2 separate regions of the Homo sapiens genome follow, and region 2 is linked to region 1. Evidence: fine-mapped expression QTL. A gene starts in region 1. The other region holds a variant in brackets. All regions are shown on one strand. Distances are from middle to middle.

Evidence for each region.
Region 2: its variant is fine-mapped to the expression of SELENOO in whole blood (TOPMed, PIP 0.97).

What each region holds. Positions count from the first base shown.
Region 1 is chr22:50,196,944-50,208,431 of GRCh38, reverse strand. SELENOO (selenoprotein O) reads right to left here and starts at 7,421. Exons shown (of 9, transcript NM_031454.2): 1 at 6,842-7,421; 2 at 1,912-2,115. The coding sequence starts at 7,395. TRABD (TraB domain containing) reads right to left here. Exons shown (of 10, transcript NM_001320485.2): 6 at 11,081-11,191; 7 at 10,844-10,983; 8 at 10,437-10,609; 9 at 10,246-10,357; 10 at 8,837-10,087. The coding sequence ends at 9,913. It overlaps TRABD-AS1 (TRABD antisense RNA 1), which reads left to right and starts at 7,649. Exons shown (of 2, transcript NR_186698.1): 1 at 7,649-8,356; 2 at 9,104-9,344. SELENOO-AS1 (SELENOO antisense RNA 1) reads left to right here. Exons shown (of 2, transcript XR_938352.3): 2 at 1-2,851. RefSeq lists enhancers at 392-956, 1,524-2,089, 2,090-2,656, 6,352-6,591 and silencers at 6,952-7,031, 7,162-8,101.
Region 2 is chr22:50,070,671-50,079,671 of GRCh38, reverse strand. MLC1 (modulator of VRAC current 1) reads left to right here. Exons shown (of 12, transcript NM_015166.4): 6 at 2,170-2,271; 7 at 2,760-2,831; 8 at 5,340-5,456. Among named protein-coding and RNA genes, the nearest start is that of MLC1, 10 kb to the left of the region's middle. RefSeq lists enhancers at 5,265-5,771, 6,091-6,972, 6,973-7,855. The variant G/A (reference allele first, on the strand shown) is at 5,484.

The DNA.
Region 1 (11,488 bases):
TGAGATGGAGTCTCACTCTTGTTGTCCAGGCTGGAGTGCAGTGGCGCGATCTCGCCTCACCACAACCTCCAACTTCTGGGTTCAAGTGATTCTACTGCCTCAGCCTCCCGAGTAGCTGGGATTACAGGCACACGCCACCACGCCCAGCTAATTTTTGTATTTTTAGTAGAGACAGGGTTTCACCATGTTGGTCAGGCTGGTCTCAAACTCCTGACCTCGTGATCCACCCGCCTCGGCCTCCCAAAGTGCTGGGATTACAGGCGTGAGCCACCGCGCCTGGCCTGTTGTGGCTGCTAAATCATGCAGCCCTACAGCAGAAAGAGAACCTTGATTAAAACAAAAGCAAACAACCAACCAGAATGCACCACAGCTTTACCTGACACACAGACATATTCCACGTTTGGTCAACATCCAGCCACTGACCAGGCCCTGTCTGCACAGTCTGGGGCACGTGCCGGGCAGGCCCATGGGTGTAGAAACCACCAAGGCCCCTGCACTCCCACCCCAACCCCACGAGGAGTGTTTTCGGCAGGTCTTACACACGGAGGGGCGTGGCCTGCCTGCCACTGCGTCCTCGGGGAGGAGATGCAAAGGAGAGTCAGCTGCTATGGACACACATCTGTGAGCGCTCACCAGCAGCCGTCCCCCAGGGTGACTGCCCCCCAGGGGACATCAGGCAAGGTCTGGACACATTTTTCGTTGTCACAACTGGGGTTACTACTGGCAACCAGCGGGCCCAGGGCAGGGATGCTGTGTGCACACAGGGTGGACTTCACAACAATGCCAGCATTGCCGCTGGGCGGGGCCTCAGAGGAAGTCGTGGCCCCAGATCTTTCCCATCCCCCTGCAGGACAGGAAAAGCCAGAGGCCCACAGGCAGCCTCAGGGGTGGGCGGCTGGTGTCCCGGGCAGGACGGGGCTGCAAGACCAACAGACAACTACATTCAGGTGTTCAGGAGGAAGTGCTAGACGCCAGGTGGCAAGGTGACATCAAAAACTGATGGCTGGGGGCCGGGCGCGGTGGCTCAGGCCTATAATTCTAGCACTTTAGGAGGCCAAGATGGGTGAATCACCAGAGGTCAGGAGTTCGAGACCAGCCTGGCCAACATGGAGAAACCCTGTCTGTACTAAAAATATAAAAATTAGCTGGACGTGGTGGCGCACGTCTGTAACCCCAGCTATTTGGGGGGACTGAGGTAGGAGAATCGCTTGAACCCGGGAGGCGGAGGTTGCACTGAGCCAAGATCACGCCACTGCACTCCAGCCTGGGTGACAGAGCGATACTCTGTCTCAAAAAAAAAGAAAAGAGAACTGATAACTGATGGCTCACGTCAGACAGGAGCCAGCCTAGGACTCCAGACCAACGAGCAACTGGACCATCAGATCAGAAAGCCTGAGCAGGACACCGCGCACAGCTTGCGGCTCCTGCTTCTTCAGTGGCCATTTCCTCAGTCAAGTCTAAGTAGTTCCTTGTCATAAACTCCAGCAAACAGCTCTGGACACTGTCCCCAGCCTCAGGCTCAGGGACCCCCTCCCCCCCAGAAGCACCAGGCAGGGACCCTTCTCTGGTGCCCGTGGCCCTGGAGCCCCCTGCTGGTGCTTTGAGACACACCAGCTCCCGCAGGGCCATCTCTGGCTGCAACGAGGGCCTGGCCGGGCACGTGGGAGGGCTCAGCACAAGTGTCCTAACTGAGTACCAAATGCCTTTGCACTCAGATCCCTCCCAGTGGGCGTGACGCAGCTACTTCGCGGACAGGCAGCTTCTGAGGCTGCCAGGGACAGGCTGGACTTTCAGAAGAGGCCAAGGCGGTCATCTGGGTTTGTTTCTACCAGAATCCTAGCAGCACAGGCCCAAATCTCCTAGGACTCTAAGCAAGTGCGTGTAGACAGGCCGAAAGGCCCCCGGCATTACCTTATGAAAGTGGAAGCTACACGCAACACAACCGTGCATTGTTCATATTTGGGATTACCATCATAGAACACGTCGCGCACCACCGTGGACTCGGACGTGACGCAGGCGCCGGCCCGTGTGGTGGGGACTCCCAGGTGGAACATGGCTTCGCTGCATAGAAACTCCCGGATGCTTGACCGTAGGACCTTGCGACCGTCGGCCTGTCTGAAACCAAACACAGAGTTCACTACGTGGGCCGGTCAGGAGGTCACCCAACACCAGGATTCCGGGCAGCACATGGAAAGGAGGGAACGCGTGTAACGTGAGCAGCTTGCACGTCCCTGAAAACCGCCCGTCCCAGGTGACATCAGGTGCCTTGTGAGCCTCCAACACCGCCCAGTTCCAGCAACCTCACAGCCCAGCAGGTTGTCGGCACAGCCTCTGGTAAAAATGGGCCTGAACACACGCAGCAGCCCGTCTTCCTGCCCAGAACGAGGGTTCCGCAGCAGAAGCCAGGACTGTGTGACTGCACAGTGGGGACAAAGGGCCTGGGGCAGCCCTGCCCCATGGGACACAACAGCCTTTGCACCAGGATGGGTGCCCCGGTACGGGCCAGCTGAGGAATGAGCTCCTCTGTGCCTGCCGGGGCCCCCACACCCACAGTGGGAGGAGGCAGGGCAGAGAAGCCAGCTGCCCGCCCCGCAAAACCCGCCCGAGGCTCCGACAGCGCTGGCCTCAGGCCACTCAGCCACTTCTGACCCCCAGGTCTCGCATTCCCTTCCCCACAGGTCTTCGGGTCCCCGGCCTCGGCCTCATGTCCTGCAGAACTGCCGAGGCCAGGGAATCGGACAGGCATGGGGAAGGGGATGTGAGATCTGAGGGCCAGATGACTGCCCCCTTTTTCTTCAATTATTTTCACTGTGGTAAAATACACATAAAATAAATTTACCATCTTAAGCCACTTTTTTTGTTTTTTAAAGACAGGGTCTCACTCTGTCACTTGGCCTGGAGTGCAGTGGCACAAACCTGGCTCACTGCAGCACCACCCTCTCGCCTCAGCCTGCCAAGCAGATGGGACTACAGGCAATGCCGCCAAGCTCTGCTAATTCTTGTCTTACTTTTTGTAAAGACGGGGTTTATGTTGCCCACGCTAGTCTTGAACTCCTGGGCTCAAGCGATCCTCTCACCTTGGCCTCCCAAAAGTGCTAGGATTACAGGCATGAGCCACTGCGCCCGGCCCATCTTAGCCATTTATAAGTGTACAGATCAGTGCTATTAAATACGTTCATAATGTTGCACAACCATCACCCCCATCCATGTCCAGAAATCTGTCTTGTGAAACTGAAACTTTGTCCCCATCGAACACTGGCTCCCGATTCCTCTACTCCCTCCAGCCCCTGGGACCCAGAAACTGAAACTTTGTCCCCATCGAACACTGGCTCCCGATTCCTCTACTCCCTCCAGCCCCTGGGACCCACCATTCTACTTTGTCTCTATGAATGTGGCTCTCTAGGTACCTCATGTAAGTGGGATCACCCAGGATTTGTCTCTCTGTGACCAGCTTATTTCACTGCACCACGTCCTCCAGGTTCATCCGTGTTGTAGCATATCAGCATCTTCTTTCTTAAGGATGAATAATATTCCACTGTATGTACACATCACATTTAATCCATTCACCTGCTGATAGACACTTGTTCTGCCTTTTGGCCATGAATATCGGTATACAAATCTTGAGATCCTGCTCTTGGGGATATACCCAGAAGCAGAACTGCTGAATCATGTGGTGATTTAATTATTTGAGGAACTTCCACACTGTTTTCCACAGCAACTCTATCATTTTACATTCCCACCAACAGTGCAGAAGGGTTCCAATTTCTCCACAGCCGCAACACTTTTTAACTTACGATTTTTTTTTTTTTTTGAGACAGGGTCTCACTCTGTCACCCAGGGACAGTGGCGTGATCTCGGCTCACTGCAACCTCCGCCTCCTGGGTTCAAGTGATTCTCCTGCCTCAGCCTCCCAGGTAGCTGGGATCACAGGCACGCTCCACCATGCCCGGCTAATTTTTGTATTTTTTGTAGAGCTGGGGTTTCACCATGTTGGCCAGGCTGGTCTCAAACTCCTGACCTCAAATGATCCGCCCACCTCAGCCTCCCAAAGTGCTGGGATTACAGGCGTGAGCCACTGTGCCCGACCAACCTTTTATTTTTCCGAGACAGTCTTGCCCTGTCGCCCAGGCTGAAGTGCAGTGGTGTGATCTTGGCTCACTGCAAGCTCCACCTCCCGGGTTCAAGCAATTCTGCCTCAGCCTCCTGAGTAGCTGGGATTACAGGCACCCACCACCACGCCCAGGTCAACCTTTTTTTAAATAACTGCCATCCCAATGGGTATGAGGTGCTGTCCCACTGTAGTTTTGGTTTGCATTTCCCTAATGATTGATGACGTTGAGCGTCTTCTCATGTTATAAACTCTTCACGTGCTTATTGGCCACATCTTTGAAGAAATGTCTATTCAAATACTTGTCCATTTTTGAATTTTTTTTTCCTGTTGCTGAGTTTTGAGAGTTCTCTGTATATTCTGGATCTTAATTACTTATCAGATATATGAATTGCAAATGTTTCCTCCCATTCTGTGGGCTGCATTTTTACTGTTAATACTGTATTTTTATGCCTAATTTTTAAAGTGTTCATGAAGTCTTGTTTGCCTGTTTCTTTAGTTGCCTGTGCCTTTTGTGTCACAGCCAAGAACGCTGCCAAATCCAATGTCATGAGGCATTTTCCCTATTTTCTCTAGGAGTTTTAGCTCTTATGTTTAGGTCTTTGGTCCACTCTTAACTTCGTTCATGGTGTAGTTAAGGACCCAGCTTCATTCTTTTGCATGAGGATCCAGTTTTCCCAGCACCATTTGTTGAAAAGTCTTTCTCCATTGAATGGTCTCAGCACACTTGTTGAAAATTTGCTGACCATATATGTGAAGGTTTATTTCTAGGCTCTTTATTCCATCCCACTGGTCTATGTCTATCCTTATGCCAATGCCATACTGTTTTGCTGACTGCGGCTTTGTAGTAAGTTTTGAAATCAGGAAGCATGAGTCCTCCAACTTTCTTCAAGATTGTTTTGTCCATTCAGGGTCCCTTGAGATTCCATATGAATTGTATTACTTTTTGAGACAGGGTCTCACTCTGTCATCCAGGCTGGAGTGCAATGGGATAATCACAACTCACTGCAGCCTTGAATCCTGGGCTCAAGTGATTCTTCCACCTCAGTCTCCTGAGTAGCTGCAATTAGAAGCACACGCCACCATGCCCAGCTAATAAAAAAAAATATTTTTTTGAAGAGACAGGGTCTTGCTGTTTCCCAGGCTGGTCTCCAACTCCTGGCCTTAAGCAATCCTCCTGCCTTGGCCTCCCAAAGTGCTGGGATTACAGGAGTGAGCCACTGCACCTGACCCCATGTGAATTTTAGAATGGGTTTTTCTATTTTTGCAAAAACTGTCATTGGTATTTTGATAAGGACTATACTGAATCTCTTCAAAGAGTACCGTTGTCTTTCTAATATTAAGTTATCCAACCCACGAACAAGGGATGTTTCCATTTATTTATGTTTTCTTTATTTTCTTCATGTTTTTCAGTTTTCACTGTTCAAGTCTCTTCCTTCTCACAGCCACTTCAGACGTTAGCCTCAATCTTGGAGAACTGGTGAGGCCAGGGACCCCAGGACACGTGTGGGGATGTCAGGCAGGGCCTGAGTAAAGGTCAAAGGACTCCTTAATTTTTAGGAGAAAATATATTCTAGCAGCTCTCAGGTCTGAAAGCAGTGAGTTAATACTCAAGTCTTCAAACATAAAAAGTGTCTTCCAGCGACAGATTACTCTCATAAAAAAAATTGTCTTTTTAACTTTAAAATATCACCAAAAATGAAAACATAAAGTTTAAGATGATCGCCAAAAAGAAAAACAAAAATTAAAAAAAAAAAATGCTCACAGGACAAGCAGGCCCCAGGCTGAGCAGCATTTCCACCACGTTCCAAGGGTCAGAAACGCTCCAGTGGGCGGCCGGTGCTGTCAACTCTAAGCAGGTCGCTGGGGGTGGGGAGGGAGAGCCAGAGCCAGGTTGCCCTCAGACACAGAACAGAACGGATTTGGAGACGGGGGAGTGAGGAAGACCCTCAGTCTGAGGAGCTTGCTTGGGAGATGGAGCCCCGGGGAAGGGATGCTGAGGGACCGAGGGGCATTTCAGGTGCTGGAGGGGGAGGTGATGAGAGCACAGGGAGGGGCCGGATGAGATGCGGGTTTAGCATTTCTCTGAACATAAAATGTACACTTTCCTAGTCATTCACAAAAGCAGTAAAGAATATGGAGTAAGTACATTGTTTAGTAGAAAAGAGCAGAACAGACCCAAGCGCTGTCTATACACAGGAGGCAGGTGGCGCGTGCACGGCTCCCCGGTGGGCCTGGCGGCATCTGGACCCAGATCCTGCCTTATTAGACCACCTGTGTGCCCCCCCACAGAAATCTAAACGATGCCCACCTCACTTCGGGGTTAAAAAGGGCTGCCCGCAGGGAAGTCAGGGCCAGGCCTCCGTGAAGTCAGTCGCAGAGCGAGGCTGCTGGACGAAGCGGCCCGCCCCACGAGCGATCGGAGGAAGGCTGGGGACCTGCGGGGTTAGGGTTAGGGTTAGCCTAACCTCTCATCCCGGCTCCCGCCCCTGGGTTTGGAGCCCCAGCGAACGTCGGTAAACATGAGCGGCGTCCCTGGTGGAGCTGACTCCAAGGTCCTCGGCGGGTTGATAAGCACAGGGCGCGGGCGGCTGCCAGCACCGCGCTCCCGCGGGTGCAGGGGAGGCCCCACTTGGCAGTAGCCGCCGGACGCCCCCAACACCGCGCCGGGCGGAGGGAAGGGGCGCCCCGGCGGGGAGGACCCACCCGCGCCCCTCGCCCGCCCCGGCCCACCTGGAGAAGGGCGTGGGCCCGGCGCCCTTGAGCTGCAGCTCCCAGCGCTCGCCGGTCGCCGTGCACACCTCGCCCAGGTACATGGCGGCGCCGTCGCCCAGCTGCCCGGCGAACTGGCCGAATTGGTGGCCGCAGTAGCAGTGCGCGGCGGGCTCGGCGCCCGGCAGGAGCGCGTTGCCGCTGAAGAACAGCGCGGCCTCGGCCTCGGCCTCGCGCGCGGGCGGCGCGCCCAGGCCCAGCAACGCCAGCGCGGGCTCTGACAGCGCCACGAGGCGCGGCTGCCGCAGCGGGGTGGGCTGCACGCGGGTGAAGCAGGCCCCGGGCACGGGCCGCGGCGCGGACGGGGCGCCCTCGGGACCGGGCGGCGGCGCCTCCACGGGCAGGGCGCGCAGGGCGCGGTTGTCGAAGCGCAGCCCCGCCAGCCAGCGAGGCGCGGGCTCCATGGCGGCGCCCGACAACGTAGAGCGGGGCGCCGGCGACGGGGAACAGCGACCGAGGGGCAAGAGTCGGGCAGCCGCGAGCGAAGCCCCGAGCGCTGCCCTGTATACGGCCATCCGCGGCCCCGCTCCCGCCGGAAGCCAGCCTGCCCCGCCCGGAAGCCCCGCCCCGCGCGTCCCGCAACCCAATCGCCAGTGGGCGAGAGTGGGGCGGGTGGGGGGAGGGGTCGCGGTGTCTGGCCGGGCTCTAATTGGCTGCCTCGTCCGTCTATCCGCATCTCCCGGCCGGAGGGTCGGAGGCGTCCGGGGTGGCTGTCGGCGTCACGGGGCGCGCGCTGATGCGAACGGGGTGACAGATGGGAACGCCTCCGAGACCGCCAGCGACGACCCCGCTCGGGCAGCCCCGGATTTCCTCGGCTGCACCGGCGCCGGCAGCGGGGACCGAGGCCCGCGTCCGTTCGGGTCGGGCCGGGGCTTAGCCCCGCGCCCCACGGGCGGCCGGGACCCCACCCGGACCCCGCCGCGGTTCTGGGCCGCCGGAGCCTCGCGCCGCCTCTCGGGGACCTTGTCCCCTGGCCTCCGGCCTCTCGGGCCCCTCGCCTGCCGTCTAGGAGGGAAGGGGCCTTGGATCTGTGCCCCGCCCATGGAACAGCGCCCGGGCTCGGAGAGGCCCCGCGAGGCCGCAGGCGCAGACCCTCCCGGAGGGCTGGGCGGGCACCGGGGTCTTCGGCTGGCTTGAGGGACCCGACCCCTGGGGGAGGAATTTGGGGTCTGTGTGTCCGAATGAACGCGGGGGTTCAGATGAGTCTGTGGTGCCCCCGCTTTCCATCTCCTCCGGCCCCGGCCCCAGAGGACTGTCTGAGAGGCCGGTGGCCGCGGATCCTGGACGCGCCTCCCTCCTGCCTGTGGTTTCCCTTTATTCCGGCAGCGGCGCGAGCCCACCCTTCACATACAGGAGCTACATCCAGAAGCTTCTCCTGGGGCCACAGCGTGGGCTTCCGAGACTCTGCGTGACCCCAGCTCTGCCCCTTTGGGGCTGCGGGTGAAGCCCTCAGGACCCTCCGCGTGCGTTGGGCAGGTAACTGGATGAGGGATAATGTGGTGAGGTCCCCGTGCCCAACCCTCCTCTGCAGCCCACAGCAACCGTTCCCTCTTCAGCAGCCCCCTCCCCCCGGCCGCTCTGGGCGCCCGTTCCCAGCATCCTCCTTGGCAGGTGTTACCCCTCCCCATTCCCCAGGCCCTGGGCCCTCCTGATCTGTCTCCTCGACCCCCTGGGGCCCCAGTCTGGCTCAGTCTGGTCCACACTCTGGAATCTGGTGGGACTGGGTATGGAGGGTCTTGAGTGTCAGCAGGCCACCTGCGTCCCACCTGGTGGGTGAGAAGGGTCCCACAGGTCAGCATGGAGGGACCCGACTCTGTCTCTTCTGCTGGAAACCAGGCAGGTTCCTTCCCCCAGGGCCCCGGCAGGGCCACGAGTACCCGCTGCACTGGAGCACGGGGGAAGAGGCAGGGATCCTTCATTACCTGAACCCCATGTTCACACGTCACAAAACAGGAGTTTCCAAAATTAGAATTTATTTCAGTTTCTAAGGAATGAATCCCCGAGTGTGGCAGGAAGGACACAGCCGGCTCCTGACGCACACCTGATTTGATTCAACACCGAGTCGGCACAGACACAACCAGAGATGGCCTGGGTCCAGGCTGGGGCTGCACGGGCTGTGTCCTGGACAGCCAGGAGGGAGGCCCCGCACACAGACGGCCGCCGGGCAGGGGGCCTGAGCGGGACAGGCCTGGCCACAGCCCATGTCCTTGGCCTTCCACATAGGTGCACACATTGTCTGCCCAGAGAGGGCCAAGATGCCCCAGGCACCCCTTCGCTCCGGGGGCTCAGGACACAGGCTCCCAGCTGAGGCCACGCCTGGACCCAGAGCTGATGTTTGGCTGCACGCGAGCCCACTCGGGACAGACCCAAGAACACGAATTCTCTCCCTTTGGATTTAAGGCTGGTGTTTTTTGACATTTACTTCAGTTTTTCTCTCTGAAATTAAAATTACCTGAGTAAAAGATTTTAAGACATTAAAAAAGCCAAAAACACAGAATCCCTGCAGGCAGACGGTGCCAGGGAGGTGGCGGCCAGGGCCAGGATGCCAGGGGCACGGTGGGGTCGGCTGGAGCTCCAGGGCTGGGCCTTTCCCAGTCTCGCCTGCCCTGGAGCCCCCAGGAGCCGCCCCTGGGCCGACGCTCCTGTGGCCGGAGCACAGGAAGGCACAGTGAGGTAGGGACAGTGGCCATTGTCCCCCGCCTGCCACCAGGGCTGAGAGGGCAGCGCACGCCTCGGCCCCTCCTATAAGCCCCTGCCCCCTCGGAGCTGGGTGTCTTGTCCAGAAGCTGGGGAACGGCCCCTGCAGTGTGGGAGGGGAGGGGCTGCCGGGAGGCCTGAGCTCAGACAGTTAAATAATCCTTTATTTGGGTGGGCTGGGGGAGGGGTGACTGGCCCAGGAGGGCAGGCGAGGCCGGGCCCAGACCCCCATGGGGGGTGGCAGGGGCCTCGGGCGGGCTAGGATGCACCTGGCACCCAGAAGTGCCGCGGGGGCACTGGCTCCTCAGGGGCCCGAGCGGGCGGGGAGCAGTCTCCTACTTGTGCCGGGCCTCGGTCACCCTCTGCAGGCAGTACTGCGCGGCGGGCAGCGACAGGACCAGGCTCGCGGTGCGGCGGCCCATCCAGTACAGGCTGTAGCCCAGCAGGCCGAAGAAGGCGGCCTTCACGGCCAACCGAGACACTCTGCCGGAGACGGACGGCGGGGGCACGCTGTGGGAGGGAGGGGGCGCTGGGCCTGGCTGGGGGTGGGCTCCCCATACCCCAGCCCCCATGCCTGGGTCACTGCCGCATGTGGTTGGCCTCCAGGGCGCTCAGCCTCCACCTGGGGGCTTGTGGGGTGGGGCTTGCAGGGAGGGGCGGGCACTCACGTCATGATCTCCTGGATGTTGAGGTCGGTGCTCCAGTTCTTCTCGATGCCAGGCACGTGGCCCATGCCCACGACGCCCACGACCACGGAGGGGACGCACTTCCTGGGCTCGGCTGTGGGGAAGGACAAGGGGTCAGTACCTGCTCGGGCCTCAGCCTCACAGGGGGTCCCACGCCTGCGGGCGGCCGTCACCGTCAGAGGCCCGAGGCAGCTCGAGGCGCCGCGCGGCCTGGCGCAGCATGTAGGTTAGGTAGACGTCGCGCTCCGAGACGATGGTGCGGTGCAGGTCTGGGAACTCGCCAATCATCTCGGCCATCATCTGCTCCAGTAGGTCCTTCTGCTTGCAGCGTTCCACGTCATCCTTGCTGTGGAGAGGGATGGCTGCAGCCCCGCAGGGATGGGCAACGGGCTGGGGGGGTGGGGCTGGCACTGTGGACACCGGGCAGGGACCACAGCACGTTTGTTTGGGATTTGTGGCGGAAGGAAAGGGCAGGGAAGGCCTTGAGTGAGGATTGGCTGCGCTTGGACCTGCACAGGAGGGCCTGGAGCCTCCCACAGACCACCCTGCAGGCCGGCCAGGGTCCCGGGGGCAGCCCTACCTGATGGGGTCTGACAGGAAGCACAGGCCCCAAGCCAGCCTGACCTTCTGCCAGAAGGAGAGCGCTGCGATGGCCCTCTTGAAGGTGACGGGGATGGGTCGGTCACCCAGGTGGAACTTGCAGAAAGGCACCTTGCTGGCCTGGAGCAGAGGCTGGGTGTTGGGGAGCAGTGGGAACCCCGGACCACCCCTGTGAGCCACATCCCTGTGGCCACCCCCTACCTCACCCTGTGCCCACCTCCTTGAAGGCCTCCCTGAACTCGCCACCTGGGGCCATGCCCAGCTGCTCGGTGATGTGTGCAGACACCTTCAGCAGCAGCATCTGCATCAGCCCCGACATGAGCCCGTTCTGCAGAGAGAGGGAGCAGGCATCAGCTGGAGGGGCGGGTGCGGGGGTGCGCTGGGGGAATGGCAGAACTGGGATGGCAGGCAGCACCAGCGCAGAGCCCTGCCCCAGCCCAGTGCTGTGTCCTTGGCCCCCTCCCCGACAGGTGCAGGACCACCCTAGCGTGCAGAGGGTCAGACCAGAGCAGGGAGTTCTGTCCCAACAGGCACTTCTCAAAGGTAGCTCCCTTCAGAAAAGACCTTCACGGGCCGGGTGCAGTGGCGCACGCCTGTCATCCCAGCACTTTGGGAGGCTGAGGCA
Region 2 (9,001 bases), 130 kb after region 1:
ACATAATACTATGTTTCATCCAATCTGTGTAAGACAGTTGTTCAATGCACCTCTAAACAAAAATGTGAAATTGTAGGGGGCAGAGGTTGTGGGAGCCGAGATGGCGCCACTGCACTCCAGCCTGGAAGACAGAGCAAGACTCCGTCTCAAAAAAAAAAAAAAAAAAAAAAAGACAAAAATCCCAAAGGAAACCAGGACCTCATCCGAGATACTGCAAGGAGGGCCTCCTGCTTTGTGTGACATGTGGAATGCACTTGATGATTGGGGAAAGCTGGAGGAGGCTTGAGTATGTCCTGGCCACTCTCGTTGGGCAGGAAAAATGAGCAGACACAGGAGGACCCAGTGGGAACACCCACACTGCCTTTTTGTTTTGTTTTGTTTTGTTTTTGAGAAGGAATCTCGCTCTGTCGCCCAGGCTGGAGTGTAGTGGCGCCATCTCGGCTCACTGCAACCTCTACCTCCCGGGTTCAAGCAATTCTCCTGCCTCAGCCTCTGGAGTAGCTGGGATTACAGGCGTGTGCCACCACACTCGGCTAATTTTTGTATTTTTAGTACAGACAAGGTTTCACCATGTTGGCCAGGCTGGCCTTGTACTCCTGACCTCAGGTGATCCATCCACCTCGGCCTCCCATAGTGCTGGGATTACAGGTATGAGCCACCGCGCCCGGCCTGTGACGCTTCTTTATTAAGACGGAGAGCAGATGGGGTGTGGTCCCTGGGTCAGTGGCTTGTATCTGAACTGCTCAGAGGCAAGTTACTCACTGTAGCTGTCGGCTGGCCCTGGGAGGAGCTGTCTCTTCAGGATCAGGAAGGAGCCAGAGGTCAAAGCACCAGAAATACAGAAAATAAAAGACAAGGTTAATGTCACACTTTTCTGAATTTTAGAGTTCTCCTTATGCTTTTGTCTTTTTGATCTGTCATTTTTTTTTTTTTTTGAGACAGTCTCGCTCTGTCGCCCAGACTGGAGTGCAGTGGCTCCATCTCGGCTCACGGCAACCTCCGCCTCTCGGGTTCAAGCAATTCTCCTGTCTCAGCCTCCCGAGTAGCTGGGATTACAGGCGTGCGCCACCGTACCCAGCTGATTTTTGTATTTTTAGTAGACAAGGGGTTTCACCATGTTGGTCAGGCTGGTCTGGAACTCCTGACCTCAGGTGATCCAACCGCCTCGGTCCCCCAAAGTGCTGGGATCACAGGCGTGAGCCGCCTCCCTCTGCCTGATCTGTCAGTTTCTAAGAAAAGTGTTTCAAGTCCTTCCCCACCTCTACTGATATATCTACATCTTCCTGTGGCTCTGTTATGACATCATATATTTCGAGGCTCTGTTTTTAGTTGAATGTGGTTCTGCACTCTTTCTTTTTTAAATGTATTTTAAAAATTGTCAGGCCGGGCGCGGTGGCTCACGCCTGTAATCTCAGCACTTTGGGAGGCCGAGGTGGGCGGAACACCTGAGGTCAGGAGTTCGAGACCAGCCTGACCAACATGGAGAAACCCCTCTCTACTAAAAATACAAAATTAGCCGGGCGTGCTGGTAGGTGCCTGTAACCCCAGCTTACTCGGGAGGCTGAGGCAGGACAATCATTTGAACCCAGGAGGCAGAGGTTGCGGTGAGCCGAGATTGCGCCATTTGCTCTCCAGCCTGGGCAACAAGAGCGAACCTCCGTCTCAAAAAAAAAAAAAAAATTGTCAGACAGCTACACTGACTTTTTAAAATGTATGCTTCTATGAATATTAACACACATATAAATTCATGTCACTGCCAATACGGTCAGGGCCTGCAGTCGTTTCATTACCCTCCAAAAAACCTTATGTTCTCAGTGCTTGACAATCATGCATGAAGCTACTCTAAACATTCCGTGAAGGCTTTTGTGGGAACAAGGAGCGTTCAGAATGGGGTCGGTAGACCAGAGCCCAAGGCCAAATCCAGCCCTGGCCTGTGTTTGTACAGCCTTTGCACTAAGAATGGTTTTAAAAACTAAAAGACCCCAAAGGCCCATGTGAGGCAGGAGAGTGTGCAGCCCACAGTGCCTCACAGCTGGCCCTGGATGGGAAAAGTGGGGACCGTGGCTGAGAGTCCTGCGCAGCCTGCCCGTGAGGTGGTCCGGTGGACGCTGAAGCGCGGTGGCGTGAGAAAGGCGGGCCCGGTGCTGAAGCGTGTGTGCCCCTTGGCAGATCAACTTCAACCTCATCCTGCTGCTCCTGCTGGAGCTGCTCATGGCGGCCACGGTGATCATCGCTGCACGGTCCAGCGAGGAGGACTGCAAGAAAAAGAAGGTGGGTGCAGCTTCTGACCCCGCAGGGCAGGGGGTGCAGAGGCATCACCCCAGGGTGAGCGAGGTGGGTCTCAGCGTCACCCTCGGAGGGCCGATCTGGGCTGCTCCAGGGCATTCCCATGAGACCCCTCTCTCCTGGGTCTCAGAAACCCCGGCCAGGAGGGGCTCTGGAGCTGGGTGAGGGGTTGGCGGCCGCTGGCTACAGGGAGGTGAAGACAGATGCTGTACCCTCCCCTCCCCCTAAGCCTGACTCAGTCCAGTGCTCGTCCCCAGGGGATCACCAGGAGACACCACATCTGCTAATTTTCATATGCAAGGACAATGTGTGTGAACATTTCCTCAAGCCCAAAGATCCACGGGCGCCTCCAAGGCGGTCTCGCATCTACACGGCAGGCTGACCTGACCCACTGCCCACGGCGGCCGGATGCCAGCGGCAGTGCTGAGTCCCTGTGCCCGTGCACCCGGGGTGACAGTTCTGTTTCTTCGTAGGGCTCCATGTCTGACAGCGCCAACATTCTGGACGAAGTGCCATTTCCTGCTCGGGTCCTGAAATCTTACTCAGTAAGAAAACTTCCCTTCTTTCTCTTTTCTCTCATACTCTGTCGGGGGTGACTGAGGCTGGATTAAACGTCACGTTTCGATTCCGAGTTGGCGAAGAGTTGGCTGTCTACACCGCATGGCGGCGTGCGCCTCATCTGTGGAGACTCTAGTCTGTTATTGGTATCATTGGTAATAACCTTCCTTATCGCGAAAGGTGCTGCTGGTGTCCTGTAATTTTTAGGGGGAGTTTGTTACTGCCGTAGGTGAGTTGACACTGTTGTCCCCGAGGAATTTTTTTTTTTTTTTTGAGACGGAGTCTCACTCCATCAGCCAGGCTGGGGTGCAGTGGTGCTATCTCAGCTCACCGCCACCTCTGCCTCCCAGGTTCAAGTAATTCTCCTGCCTCAGCCTCCTGAGGAGCTGGGACTACAGGCACATGCCACCACGCCCGGCTAATTATTTTATTTTTAGTAGAGGCAGGGTTTCGGCATGTTGGCCAGGCTGGTCTCGAACTCCTGACCTCAAGTGATCCACCCACCCAGGCCTTCCAAAGTGCTGGGATTACAGGTGTGAGCCACCGCACCTGGCCTCTTTCTCCTTCTTACTTTCAACTTTTCTTGCCTTGTACTTTGGTATAATTGTTATAAGCAGCACGTAACTGTATTTTGTTCTTTATCTTGTCATTCTCTCTCCCTAGCTTTTTGAATGTAGCCCATTTCCTCTGAGAGTTATTACTGATAAATTTCTACTTATTTTTACCATCTTTTGAGTTTTCCATTTTCCCTGATTTTGCCTTTTTCCCTCCTTCCCTGCCTTCTTTTGAATTGGCAGAGGCTCCGTCCTTCCTTTTCCCTCTAATTTTGGATGGGAAATTTTTCAGTATTCTTTTGGGGGTTGCCCTTCATATTCTAATACGCTCCTTGATAAACAGACCATGCGGGGTCTGTCCCCCTTCCCTCCGCCTTGGCCTTGTTGTCTAGCTTGTGACATTTAGTGACATTTTGCCTTTTTACTCCAACAATGGGACAGCCTCCTGTGTGCTTGACTGTGTCTGTGTGTGTTTCCCAGTGCCTTCACTTCCCCTTATTTAGCATTTCAGTCCTCTCTTAGGTTCCATTTCCGTTCTGCTTCTTTTTTTTTTTTCCTTTTTTTTTGAGATGGAGTCCTGCTGTTGCCCAGGCTAGAGTGCAGTGGTGTGATCTTGGTTCACTGCAACCTCTGCCTCCTGAGTTGAAGCGATTCTCCCGCCTCAGCCTCCCGAGTAGCTGGGATTACAGGTGCCCGCCACCACGCCCAGCTAATTTTTGTTATTTTTAGTAGAGACGGGGTTTACCATGTTGGCCAGGCTGTACTCAAACTCCTGACCTCACGATCCGTCTGCCTCGGCCTCCCAAAGTGCTAGGATTACAGGCATGAGCCGCCGTGCCTGGCTGGGAATTCAGCTTTATTTGTGCATCTGGAGTTTTGTGCCTTCTGGACGCAAGGCCTGGCTGCCCAGGTCCCTTCCGGCCCCCAAGCCCTTGCTGGCCCACTCCTTATGCCTGGCTTTCCTGCTGGCCACAGCTCTGTGTTTGCGACTCACAGAGATCCTTCACGGGAGCAGGTTTTCGGGCGTGTGTTTCTTCCCCAGCCCTCCCTGAGTCTGGCGGTGCTGGTTGCGGCCCCTCCCTGAGTCTGGCGGTGCTGGTTGCGGCCCCTCCCTGAGTCTGGCGGTGCTGGTTGCGGCCCCTCCCTGAGTCTGGCGGTGCTGGTTGCGGCCCTGATGGTGCCGGGCAGATGAGTCCACAACCAGGGCTTAGGCCAGCAGGGTTCTTGGCTTTGTCCAGGAAAGAATTCAAGGGCGAGCTGGAGGTGACAGACAGCAGCTTTGTTTGCAGTGGCAGTATAGCAGGGCTCTCCAACCGGCAGGTGCCTCGAGCAGCAGCTCAGAGACAGCTCTGCCTCCTATTTATACCCACTTTTAAGTATATGCTAATTAAGGGGCAGATTATGCAGAAATTTCTAGAAAAGGGGTGCTAACGTCCAGGTGGTTGGATCATTGCCACGGAAAGGGGTGGTGACGTCCAGTGTTGCCGTGGCAATGGCAAACCCACATGGCACGGGTGGGTGTGTCCTATGGGAAGCTACTTCTGCCCCAGGCCTGTTTTCCCGAGTCCCTTCGATGGGGTCCAGGGTCTGAGCACCGCCGCCTGCCACACTGTGAGACAGGGAAGGGAGTCTGAGGGTCTTGGTTTTCTGCCCTCACCACTGTCAGGTCAATACCCTCAGTTTCTGTGGACAAAAGCAGCAGTGGGGGAAACACCTCTTTGGCTATTTTACTCCAGGAGGGACGTGAAAAGCCGCAGCTGAGGGCAGAGGGGGTCTGGGCCAGGTGAGGCTGGGGGTCCATCCAGGTGGGCTCCTCCACGGTTAGATCTGGGGCCAGCCCACTGGACCCTGCTCCTGGGGGTCCATGTCTGCACAGTGCATTCTGGGAATCTGGGGGTGTCTCCACTTCCTTATGAGCCGATGCTGTCCTGTCCCCTCCAGGTCGTCGAGGTAATCGCAGGCATCTCTGCCGTCCTCGGGGGGATCATTGCCCTGAACGTGGATGACTCAGTTTCAGGCCCACACCTCTCAGTGACGTTCTTTTGGATCCTAGTGGCCGTGAGTAACCCCTCTGGCCCGCCCGCC[G/A]CCGCTCTGGGCCACACTGCTCAGATCCTGCGTGGCTGGGCCCCGAGCTCAGTCTTGGTGCATTCAGACAGAGAGTCACCACAGAGGGTCCTCGCTGGCCCCCAACTTCAGAAGAACTGGGGAGTTAAGGATTAAATGAGTCAAAGTATTAACTGCTTTTATATTAGTTTGTGTGATTATTTTATATTATTTTTCCTGAAAAAAATACCAATTATTTTTATTATTCTAATCTTTTTAACATATGAATGTCAGGCTGTAGATGTTTATTATTCTATATAATTTTCTAATATATAATGCATTTATATTACACTATGTGTTTCATACAATGCAGCATATTTCTGTTATTACTTTACATTAAATGTTACTGCAGCAGATGTGTCACACAGCACCTGACACATGCCACATGCTCAATACATGGGCATTGTTTTATTTATTTTATTTATTTATTTTTTTGAGATGGAGTCTCACTCTGCCACCCAGGCTGGAGTGCAGTGGCTCAATATCACCTCACTACAACCTCTGCCCCTCCCCGGGTTCAAGTAATTTGCCCACCTCAGCCTCCCAAGTAGCTGGGATTACAGGCGTGGACCACCATGCCCAGCTAATTTTTTTGTATTTTTAGTAGAGACCGGGTTTTGCCATGTTGGCCAGGCTGGTCTTGAACTCCTGACCTCAAGTGATCTGCCTGCCTCGGCCCCCAAAAGTGCTGGGATTACAGGTGTGTTCCCTCAGAACAGTGAGTCTAGAGCAACCCCTCCACACCCCAGATCCCCTCACAGCCTGTAGCCCACCCAGAGCCACCACCCACCTGCCTCCGGACGCAGACCCCACGAGGTTCTCAGCACCTTGCCGCGTAGTGGCCTGCACACCGGTGTTGACGGCCAGCCCCTGGTTTGTCTCATGCTGTGTGGACTTTTAGATTTTGCCCCTGCTCTCTTATGTACATGAGCAGGAATGGTGAGCACCCAGCATCAGCTACAGGCTCCTCCTGGGCAGCAGTGGGGCTCTTCCTGAAGCTGCCGAGGCCCATGCCTGCCTGGGAGCAGTATGGCCAGGTGGACTGCCGAGAAGGGGCCCACGCCTGCCCGGGAATGGTATGGCCGGGTGGACTGCGGAGAAGGGGCCCACGCCTGCCCGGGAACGGTGTGGCCGGGTGGACTGCCGAGAAGGGGCCCACGCCTGCCAGGTGGACACATCCCATTGGCAGCAGCTGTGTTTCAGCTCCCTGTGGGGGCGAGTAGGCACAGAGCAATGCCCCCAGGGCACCAGTGCCCGACCTAGTGGGCTGCTGAGGCGCTCAGAGAGGGAAAGAGACCCAGGCAGGACCGAGCTGGGATAGAGCCACACCCCCGGAAGGGGTAGGACCAGGCCCAGCTACTGAGACAGAGAACTCACATGGGTGCCCACCCAAGCGGGTCTGTGACAGAGAGAATGACGCCTGCAGGTGTGTACAACTGACCCTGGGGTCTGAAACGCAGGGATTACATCCCGAAGCTGAGGGAGGACAGAGACCACATACCTCCAAAAAGTTGAGAATGAAAGGCACTTGCCCTACCCCCTTCCCTGTCCCTGCAGTCAGCCCTCATCACAGAGGCCCCTCCCATCCCGCAGACCCCTCCTGCCTCGGGGGTGGCTCTGCTCTCTCCATCTTCCCGGAGAGCACCCCCTGCCCATCAGGTGCTGCCCCCTGGGCGCCCCTAAATCCACCCACACTCCCAACCCTCTCTTCAGGGCAGGAGACCCCAGGAGGAGAGGAGAGCGCTGAGGCATGCGTGGTGAGGGACCCAGCTCCACCTGCCTGAGTCTGGCCTGGGTGCGGCAGAGGGGCCCAGGCCCTGCACCATGGGCTGGAGGCAGGTGCTCGGGGCTGGAGTTGGGGGCTGGGCTGCAGGCCTGGACCCTTCCAGGGCAGGGCCCTTGATTGAGCTGCCCCAGCCCCTATGGCTGAGCTTCCTGGCCCTCTAGGGCAGGGGCCGGAGTGGCCATGCTGGGTGAACGGGGAAACTCCCGCCCTCCCATGGCTCACTGGGGCCCTGAATAGGCCACCCTGAAGCCACCATCCCTTCCTGTGCCCTCACTGCTGCTTACAGCTAGAAGGCCCTTTCAGAAGCACCAAGCCCAGGAGAGACCCCTGTATTGACACCTCAGCCTCCCTGGCCAGGGCCACACCCACCTCAGCAGCTGGCTTGGGGCCTTTGCACTGGCAGCCCCTCAGCTCCCCAGTCTTCTCCCTGCTGCCCAGGCTCCCCTGCTCGGAGCCCATCTCTGTCCTGCCCACCCTCTCACCACAGCCCCTGGCTGATGCAGCCCCCTCCCCAGCAGGCCGGGCTGGGGTGCTGGCACCTGGACACCTTCGGGGAGATGAAGAGGATGAAGAGCATGCATCCTCCCTCTGCCTACATTGTGCGGAACTAAGGCAGGCTCCTCACAATAAGTGGGAAAAGGGCATTTCTTGGTTATAAAAAGGAAGAGGTGCCCATCCAACAGAGGAACCTACAGATCCCCCTAACCCAGTGAGTCAAGTCAGCGTCATCAGGAAGGGGCAGTCCACACCCTGGGGCACTGCAGAGTCTCCTCCGAGGCTCCCCAAGGCTCATCATGAGGAAATCCTGTCCCACACGGAGGCCCGACTGCAGCTGATGGGCTGCACCCCCCAGAAGCGACCAGGTAACGGAGGTGACAGAGGCTGAGGGACTCCCCGATTAACAGGGACCCACAAGGAGACTACGAGCTCAATGGCAGACCGAATCCGGATCAGGAGCAAACAAACAAACAGCTCTAGAAATAACATGACCAGGGCCAGGTGCGGTGGCTCATGCCTGTAATCCCAGCACTTTGGGAGGCCGAGGCGGGCGGATCACCTGAGGTCAGGAGTTCGAGACCAGCCTGGCCAACAAGGCGAAACCCCGTCTCTACTAAAAATACAAACATTAGCCTGGTGTAGTGGTGGGTGCCTATAATCCCAGCTACTCAGGAGGCTTGAACCTGGGAGGTGGAGGTTGCAGTGAGTCAAGATCGCGCCACCGTACTCCAGCCTGGGTGACAGAGCAAGACTCCATCTTAAAAAAAAAAAGGAGAAGAAGAAAGAAAAATTATTAAAAAATTAAAAAGAAAGAACATGATGAGGACAACTGGAAGAATCTGGGCATGGACCACATCGGCCCCACGTGGAGTCTCTCGAGCGTGGTCCTGCTTTGGGTGTGTGCAAGAGTGTGCCCTGGGCTCAGCCAGCACTCTCAGGTGTTCAGGCATCAGGCTATCTGGGAGAGCTGGAGAGAGCACAGATATGAATGTCAAGGACTCTGGTGATTTTGGGGCCTCAGATGCCCCCTCCACTGCTCTTGCAGCTTTTCTACAGGCTTAAAATTTTAAACCAATGGTTGAGGAACAGAGAGCACACAAAACCTCTGAGAGGCTACCCCTGCTTCCCTGCGGACCCGTCCCTGCCCCAGCTGCGCCTTTGGGCACTGCACCATCCCCCCTGCCCCCCACAGCAAGCCAGCCAGGCAGCCTGCATG